Linked DNA regions of Homo sapiens: region 1 is linked to region 2. The links come from fine-mapping of genetic effects on gene expression. A gene starts in region 2. The other region holds a variant in brackets. All regions are shown on one strand. Distances are between the middles of the regions. Region 1 overlaps SLC9A3 (solute carrier family 9 member A3). Region 2 holds the start of SLC9A3-AS1 (SLC9A3 antisense RNA 1).

Region 1 (4,492 bases), 29 kb after region 2:
TCTGTAGGGGCCACTGCTCAAGCCAGCATGGCTACAGAGATACCATGGGAGTGTGGAGGGGCCACTGCACCTCAAAGAAGAAGGAACCCACAGCCCTGGGCCCCGTCGGAGCCACCACAGGCGCAGGGCACAGCCTCCTCGGCCCAGAGCTGTTGGGCAGGAGCTGCAGGGTGGCTGGGACGCAACAGGCAGCGACATCTTCAACCTTCTACCAGAAGAGCCTCAGGTCCACCGCACTGACTGCGGCAACCCCGGCCCTGTGGGTTGAAAGGGCAGAGGGTGTCTGAGGCCTTAAGGAAATGAAGAGAATAGAACTCGCCCCATGGCACACACTGTGAGGGAACCAGGCGGTGTGGGACCCTCCCGAGACGCACTATGCAGAGCCTGGGCTCAGCCACACAACTGCAGAAGCCAAACCACGAGAAGCTCCACAGACGGAACCGGCTTCCGGCACCACTGGGACACGCCACGAGGCTCCCCCAGCTAGGTGCACACACGGCATGCGACTGGCGTGGATCCCTGGCGAGAATGGAAGGGGGGGTGGCAGGAGACGGGGACGGGACCCTCCAGGGACACAGGAAACACACACCAAGCACGGAGAGGCCAGGCGGGCCGGTGTGGACAGGGGGCCGGTGTGGACACGGGGCCAGTGTAGATGGGGCCAGTGTGGACGGGGCTGGTGTGGGAGGGGCTGGTGTGGATGGGTCAGTGTGGACACAGGGCCGGTGTGGACATGGGGTCAGTGTGGAAGGGGCCGGTGTGGATGGGGCAGGCGTGGATGGGGCTGGTGTGGACATGGGGCTAGTATGGATGGGGCTGGTGTGGATGGGGCCGTGTGGATGGGGCCAGTGTGGATGGGGCTGGTGGGTGTGGACGGGGCTGGTGTGGACGGGGTCAGTGTGGACACAGGGCCAGTGTGGACATGGGGTCAGTGTGGAAGGGGCTGGTGTGGATGGGGCAGGCGTGGATGGGGCTGGTGGGTGTGGACGGGGCTGGTGTGGATGGGGCCAGTGTGGACACAGAGTCAGTGTGGACATGGGGTCGGTGTGGACGAGGCTGGTGTGGACACGGGCCGGTGTGGACAGGGCCAGGCCCTGAGTCCGCCTGCCACAGCCCGTGTGGCTTCCACACAAGGGGACAAACCTGGGGACACGCAGGCCCTCAGGTAACTGATTGCCGAGGCTGGAGAGTCACAGCTAATTAAGCACACAATGGCTTGGTGGCCTGATGGTTACGACAGGGGACAGACGCTTTTAGTTCTAATTACAAACCCTGTGCCTGGAGGAGGAAGGGCCGGCGCTGGCAAACCAGACATTTCCGGATGGGCGCCGGAAAGGGCTTCTCTCTGGGCCCCGGGGGGCTCAGGAAGGCCACGGCCCAATGCATGTCACACCCCTCGGAGCACAGAGGGACGGGGCTTGGTCAGGCCCAGGGCCTCCGCCACCTCCAAGGACCTTTCAAGGTGGCAGAGATTCAGCCGAGTCCACAAAAATGCAACAGCGCAGTCAATCCTGTGGTTTTACTTTAACAGGAACACGTCCCGGAGGATTAAACTCTGCCTCCCAGAAACAGCCTGGCTGAGCGGTGGGGCGGTGAGGCCAGGAAGGAGGGCGGAAGCACAGGTACCCACCCTCCCGGGGGACGAGGGGCCGGGGCATTCCACAGGCAGGCGCAGACACATGCAGGAACACGTGCACGCACACAGAGACTCGCAGAGACGCAGAGACGTGCAGAGACACACAGAGGAGACACGCACAGGGTCCACCCTGTTCTCCTAGCACAGCTGTGGGTCTGAGTTCTCTGCCACCCGCCCCTGCAGGTCCAGCAGAGCTCGCCAGCACACTCTGACCTCAGTATCACTTTACCCGCCTGTGGGGCACCGGCGAGGAATCACGGTAAATGTGTCGGCCGTCAAGCCCAGGGCGGAGGTAAAGGTGCTCACGGAGGTCCGCCGTGCGGCCTGGCAGACGTGCCTGCGTGACCCCACGCGTCCCTGCCTGCGGGTGCAGTTCCCCGTGAGTACTCAGGTTGGCGTGGGACAGGGGAGCCGGCTCCCGGGGGCCACGCAGGAAGCCCCTCTCCGAGCGAGGCCGGGCCCCCGGGCCGGGAAGCTGCTTCCTGCCAGATGAAGTTCACACAGCTCCAAGAACAACAGCCCGTTCAGGACTGGACTCCCTGCGCTCAAGTCACAAGGCGTTTTACACATTGTACATTTACAACACTCGAGCAAACCTGGTCGGTTTTTAAATTGAAACATGAATGTTGCCCACGGTTCCCTAGAGAATCAGGAGATCCTTCGACTCCAAACCACCCTGAGCAACCGCGCTGGGGCAAAATGAACGCAGCCTCTGAGCCAGCCACGGCCTCTGTCCAGGACGCTGGGCAGACCCCACACCCCTTCCTCTCTGGGACCCAGCCGCTCCGGCCCCCCACCCCCAGAGACGGCCCAGGCCCCCTTATTAGCAGCGTGAGAACAGACAGACACAGGCAGGTCCCAAGCTGCCCACAGCAGAGGAAAGACCTGGATGCAGATCCCAGCTGCCACCACCTCAGGGCTTTGCTCA[A/C]AGCAGCAACAAGCTTCAGCTACCGCAGACCCAGCGGCGCCTACCAGGGGCCGCAGCGGAGCACAGTCCCCGGCAAGACACCGGTCGCAACGTCCTGGGGCAACGGAAGTCACGAGACACGTGAAGTGGGAATGTGGCCCAGCTCAAATCAGAGGAGAACGCAAGATGGTCAGACCCTGGAATCAGCAGACAAGGGCCTAAAACAGCAGCTCAAGGATAGAAAAGAAACGTTCTCATAACCACTTAAAAAGGACAAGCCGCAGCGGTGGAGTGGAACAGGGCTTGGCACATTTTTTCTTAAAGGCAGATTGTGAGTATTTTAGGTCCTGCAAGCTGCCAACAGGAGGATCACTTCATAACCACTCACTACCAGTGAGGCCGAAAGCCGCTGTAACGACACAGACGGGCGCCGAAAGCCGCCGTAATGACACAGATGGGCGCTGTGTTCCAGTGAAACTTTACCACTCACTACCAGTGAGGCCGAAAGCCGCCGTAACGACACAGATGGGCGCTGTGTTCCAGTGAAACTTTACCACTCACTACCACTGAGGCCGAAAGCCGCTGTAACGACACAGATGGGCGTTCCAGTGAAACTTTATTTACAACAACCAGTGGCCGGCCCACGGGCTGTAGTTTGCTGATGCCTAAAATAGAACTTATCAAAGAGAACCAAGCAGAAACCCTAGAATCTCTGACATAAAAACTCAATGGATAGACTTACGAGCAGACAGAAATGACAGTAAAGAGAGTGAACTGGAAGACAGATCAGAAGAAATCATCCCATCGGAAGACCAAGGAGAAAAAATGGTTTTTAAAGTAACCAGAGCCTCAGTGGCCTGTGGGGCAAAATCAATAGCTTGTAGCCGCAGCACTTTGGGAGGCCAAGGCAGGAGGATCGCTTGAACCCAGGAGTTCAAGACCAGCCTGGGCAACACAGCAAAACCCCTTCTCGACAAAATAAATTAAAACATTAGCTGAGCCTGGTGGTTTGTGCCCATAGTCCCAGCTACTCAGGGGGCTGAGGCCAGAGGGTCCATTGAGCCTGGGCGGGTTGAGGCTGCACCCCAGTCTGGGTGACAGTGAGCGAGGCCCCCATCCTTGCCCAGAAAAAGGCCTGATATATGTGTAGCTGGAGCTCTGGAAGGAAGGGAGAATGGGGCGGGGAAACCTTGAAGAGCGAATGGTAAAAAATGTCCCCAGTTTGGTGAAAGACACACATTTATAGATTTGAGAAATTTTGCAAGCTCCAAGCAATGCAAGTACAGGGAAAATCCTGCCTGTGGGCACGGCACAGTCAGACTGCTGAAAATCAAAAACAAATGGAGAATCTTTCCATCTGTATAATGTGTGTGAGTTACCAATAAAGAACTTTCTTCTTGTTCCATGAAATGGGCAAGGAAGGCGTGTCTGCTGGAAATCTCATCCACGGCTGTGGTTTCTCCTGAATCGGCGAATCGTCTGCGCGAGGCTGGGGCCTCTGGACAGAAGACTGGGCCCCCAGAGCTCTTGGGGGGTTCCCATCTTCACCCGGTGCCTGGATTCTCAGGGTCCCACCCACCCCCACCTTCCTCACACTTCACCCTCTCTTCTCTCTTGCCCTTATAAAATCATTCACTTCAAAGTAGAAATTATGAAACCGTCTTCATCAATCACGGAAGTTTAGCATTCCCCGTGTTTTTGCCTTTGGTTTATCAACAACTAAACAAGGGAAGGGAACAAGCTTCTGCAGAAGCTTCCAGCAAGGAGACAGCGTCCTATATGAGGCGCCTGGGGAGGGAAGGTGCCGGAAGGCATCGCTGTGGGGCTGCCGCCAGCTCCGGAACCCCCGGGAACCCAAGGGGCACACGTCTCCCCGTGTTCTTGCAGCCCCCGCGTCCCGTGACCCACCCAGGAGGTGTGACCTGCCCTCCTTGCTTCAGGCTCCCCTC
Region 2 (4,227 bases):
TCCGTCACCTGGTAGGGAGCAGCCTGGGCTGCCGTGAGTGAGGTGTTCTCACTCTGGTTCCGTGTTTGTGTTTAGCCTGTGCAATTCTCGTCAACACAGAACACCTGCCTGCCCACCCCCGGTGCTGAAGACCGACCAGTCAAGGAGGTGTTGGTGGGAGTGTTGTGTTCACCATGTGGAGATCAGGCGGCGATTACCGCATCTTCTTTGCTGACTTTGGTAACCGGGTGTCCAGGGAGGAGCGATCGGGAGTGGCCAAGCAGTTGCCTGGACTCAGCTTCTGACTCTGCAGCTGGGAGTCAGATGCAGGCCCAAGGGTCCAGGGGAGTTGTTCAGCGCCTGGAATCGCCATGCATTGCGCGGTGGACCGCACGACGCTCCTGCTCTGTTCTCCCAGGCACAGACAGGCACTTGGAAGGCAGCTTTGCTCCTCTGGCCACCCGGAAACCTCCCAGCAGTTCAGATGGGACAAACTGGGGGCCTGTCAGAACAGCCACTTGTGCCGGGAAGGCCAGGCCCCGGCCTGCTCCGATGAACGTCAGGACGGTGGCTGCAGCAGGGAACCAGGGCTGGCCTTGGATCTGTCCAGTAGGGTCACTGACTGGGCAGGGCTTGCTGCATAGAGGATGGCTGCATTTTGTGCTCAGAGTTGGTTGAAATGGCTACGAAGTGTGGAGAATAACCACTGAATCCCAAAAAGTCACTGCGCTTGATCTGATCCAAGTAACAGTGACTGCAGTTAGGGTCGAGAGCTTCTCCGAAGCAGCGGTCATGCAGGCTTTTGTGTGGCTGACGCTTCCCTTTTTCACAACAGTAAAAAGCTATCAATGGGAAATTGTGGACTTTTCCCACCAGGGACTCAATGGGGACTCAATGTGCAATATTCAGTCAACATAAAACTCTTTAAGAACTCCTCCTGACTGGTGACTGTCAACACTTGATCTGAAACGTGAATAGTTTAATTTTCCTGAGCAAGGAGCTGCGAGTCTAGCTTTAGAAAAGCCCCTAGGAGTGTCCACCTCCACCACTTCCACCGTGCAGGCAGGTTTCAGGTGGGTTGGACCCTGTGGGACTTGCCGTCTGAGGGATGGATGGACTCCGAGCACCCTCCCCGGCTCAGCACCCGCGGCCTCCGCCCACTCAATGGACTGTGCCTCCCAGAGCTTGGGCTGGATGGTCTCCCTGCAGAGGACCAGGAGCTCTGTCCAAGGCCTCGCCCTGGGACGCTGGAAGGGGTGGGAAGGGTCAGGGGTCCGGGGTCTAGGACAGGCTCAGGGGTCTCAGCAGGTTCTCCTTGGAGGGCCTGAGCCTGGTAGGGGGGCGGTGCCCTGGGCCCCTCCATGCCCCCTGGTTTGTTAAGGGGGACAGAGCAGCTGCTGGGCCCCACCATCCACTTAAGGACTGGCCGTGATTCTTGGCAAGCTCCGCCCGCCAGGCCACCTCTCACCCAGCCAGGGCACCCCGGGCGACCTCCGCGCCAGGTGCGACAGCTCAGGCCGGAGACCTCGTCTGTGGGGACGGGCCGTGTCCGGGGCCGCCACCCTGAGACCGGGCGCGGGCAGGACGGAACCTGGGGGGGAAACGGGGCAGGTACTGGCTTTAGGAGTCTAAATCCCCAAACGCTGAGCAGACGGAAGACGTTCCTGCCACTTTACCTGCAGTTCAAAGACCTGGCGAGGGCCTGGAAACGGCGCTCGGCCCAGGCCGCTTGCGGGCGCTGGGCCTGCAGCCGCTGCAGGTCGGGCCCTGAGTCCTGGCGCTCGGGAGGTCCCTGAGTCGGTCCCCGAGTCAGTCCCCGGGCGCGGGGCTCGGTTGGGGGGGCCCGGAACCTTGGGCTGGTTTCACGCAAATCCGTTTGGGGCGAGCCTCGGTTTCCCGGCAGCGGTGGGAAAGGGCGCGAGCGGCCAGCCATGGCGCGCGGACCCTTCCCGCCGGCGGCGTCACAGCGGCGTCTCCTCCTGCTCCAGCGCGTGCGGCGGTGCGTGGCACGAGGGCGGCAGCGACGCCAGCTTCAGCAGCGCGGGGCGGCGGCGCGCGCGAGGCCGCTGGAACGAGCGCCGGCTGTGCACGCGGCGCGCCGCCGCCGAACGCGCGTGCGCACTCGGCAGCCCTCGGCGCTCCGGCCCCGCCCCCGGCGCAGGCCCCGCCCCCGGCTCGCCCTCGGGCGGCTCTGCGGGCGCAGGCGCGGCACTCTCGGAGTTCTGCGCAGGCGCTGGCGTGGGCGAGGCGGGGCTCGGGGCTCGCGGTCGCTGTAGCCGCGCGGGGATCTGGGGTTTCTCTGGGACAGCGGCGGCGGCGGTGGGCGGACCGTGGCGCGGGGACGAGCGGCCGGTTAGCGGCGTGTCGGAGCCGGTGTCACCTGCGGGAGAGGAAGGCGTGAGCGGCGCGCGGAGCCCGGGCGCTGGGGCGGGAGGGGCGTCCCCGGGGGCCTCAGCTGTCCCCGAGCCCGGCGGCTCTCGCCTCCCCTCCCGCGGCGCACCCCAGGCTCGGCGTCCGCTGGGGCCTCCTCCCAGGACCCGGGTTCGCGGGGCAGAGGCGGAAGCAGCAACAGCGAAGCCCCAGCCCGGCCCCGCCACGTCCCCCCGCCGGGGGTCCCGGGACAGCGGCCTCCTCGGCGCAGGAAGGTCCCGCCCCAGGCCCTGCAGCGCGGGAGGTCAAGGTCCCCAAGGGGACCTGCTTCCTCCATCTCAAACCGCCCTGGCGTCCCCCGGGTGCCTCCCAGGCCCCCAGAGGGAGCTCAGAAAGCCCAGACCCCACGGCCCGCCCCTCTCCCTGCTCTGAGCTGGAGGCAGAGTCCGGGTCTGCGGGGCCGGCCCTCCCTGTATCCCTGTGAGAGGGTCGGGGACCCGGGGCGTCTGTCTGGCTTCCCCCAGCCCTGCTCTCAGCTCCCTGGGAGCGCAGGATTTGGACTCGCGGACTAGCTTTCGGAGCCACCTAAAGGAAATCTCAGGCGGCCCTAGTGCCCTCAGCTCCGTGGGAGCAGCAGAGACGCCAGAGTATCTCTGTCCGGGCTCCTGAGGGAGGTGCGGCCAGCAGGGCGCTAGAGGAGGAAGAGGGGCTGCTGGAGAGAGAGAGCGCGCCAGGTTCAGGTCCAGGGAGGAGAGAGAGCGAGCGCGCGAGGCGGAGACCTGGAGGGAGAGGAGCTGCGGAGAGGGGTTAGGCGGGGAGGGAGAGAGAGAACCAGGTTCCGGTCCAGGGAGGAGAGAGACAGCGCGCGCGAGGCGGAGACCTGGAGGAGAGGAGCTGCGGAGAGGGGTTAGGCGGGGAGAGAGAGAGAGCGAGCCAGGTTCAGGTCCAGGGAGGAGAGAGACAGCGCGCGCGAGGCGGAGACCTGGAGGGAGAGGAGCTGCGGAGAGGGGTTAGGCGGGGAGGGAGAGAGAGAACCAGGTTCAGGTCCAGGGAGGAGAGAGACAGCGCGCGCGAGGCGGAGACCTGGAGGAGAGGAGCTGCGGAGAGGGGTTAGGCGGGGAGAGAGAGAGAGCGAGCCAGGTTCAGGTCCAGGGAGGAGAGAGACAGCGCGCGCGAGGCGGAGACCTGGAGGGAGAGGAGCTGCGGAGAGGGGTTAGGCGGGGAGGGAGAGAGCCAGGTTCAGGTCCAGGGAGGAGAGAGACAGCGCGCGCGAGGCGGAGACCTGGAGGGAGAGGAGCTGCGGAGAGGGGTTAGGCGGGGAGAGAGAGAGCGAGCCAGGTTCAGGTCCAGGGAGGAGAGAGACAGCGCGCGCGAGGCGGAGACCTGGAGGGAGAGGAGCTGCGGAGAGGGGTTAGGCGGGGAGGGAGAGAGACAGCGCGCGCGAGGCGGAGACCTGGAGGGAGAGGAGCTGCGGAGAGGGGTTAGGCGGCGGGAGGCCCGGGAGCGTTACATGTGTGTGGACTCGGGGAGGGCGGCGGGGGGCCGCTCCTCGGGGCCGTCTGCCTGCAGGAAGGAGTCCACGGACTTGCTGCTGAGGCGGAAGGGCATCAGGCGGCAGAAGGTGCCGGGAGAGTAGGGAATCTGCGTGCGGGCCCTCTGCGAGGGGACCACCGTCTCCCCGGGAGACAGCCAGGGCGGCAGCCTGGCCAGGAGGCTGCGGTCCAGGGCCTCGTCCGGAGAAAACACAGGGTTGTCAATTCCTAGGAGAGAGGGCAGCGGCTAGTCAGCCTTCGGAGAGCCCCACGGCGGCAGGGGAGACCTCGCCGGGGCCGTCACCTGCTGGGTGCCTTGGAAAGTTAGGGTCACCGGGAAGGTTAG

The links. PIP is the estimated chance that this variant, and not a neighbour inherited with it, causes the effect.
Region 1: its variant is fine-mapped to the expression of SLC9A3-AS1 in whole blood (INTERVAL, PIP above 0.99).

Annotation. Positions count from the first base shown.
Region 1 is chr5:499,855-504,346 of GRCh38, forward strand. All of the region lies in intron 1 of SLC9A3 (solute carrier family 9 member A3), which reads right to left. Among named protein-coding and RNA genes, the nearest start is that of SLC9A3, 22 kb to the right of the region's middle. The variant A/C (reference allele first, on the strand shown) is at 2,565.
Region 2 is chr5:471,024-475,250 of GRCh38, forward strand. It overlaps SLC9A3-AS1 (SLC9A3 antisense RNA 1), which reads left to right and starts at 2,213. Exons shown (of 7, transcript NR_125375.1): 1 at 2,213-2,376; 2 at 4,114-4,227. It overlaps SLC9A3 (solute carrier family 9 member A3), which reads right to left. Exons shown (of 17, transcript NM_004174.4): 16 at 3,860-4,109; 17 at 1-2,359. The coding sequence ends at 2,356. SLC9A3-OT1 (SLC9A3 3' UTR overlapping transcript 1) reads right to left here and starts at 1,942. Exons shown (of 2, transcript NR_024158.1): 1 at 1,656-1,942; 2 at 1-942. RefSeq lists enhancers at 894-1,536, 1,537-2,177, 4,105-4,227 and silencers at 1,421-1,550, 1,911-1,980, 2,101-2,920.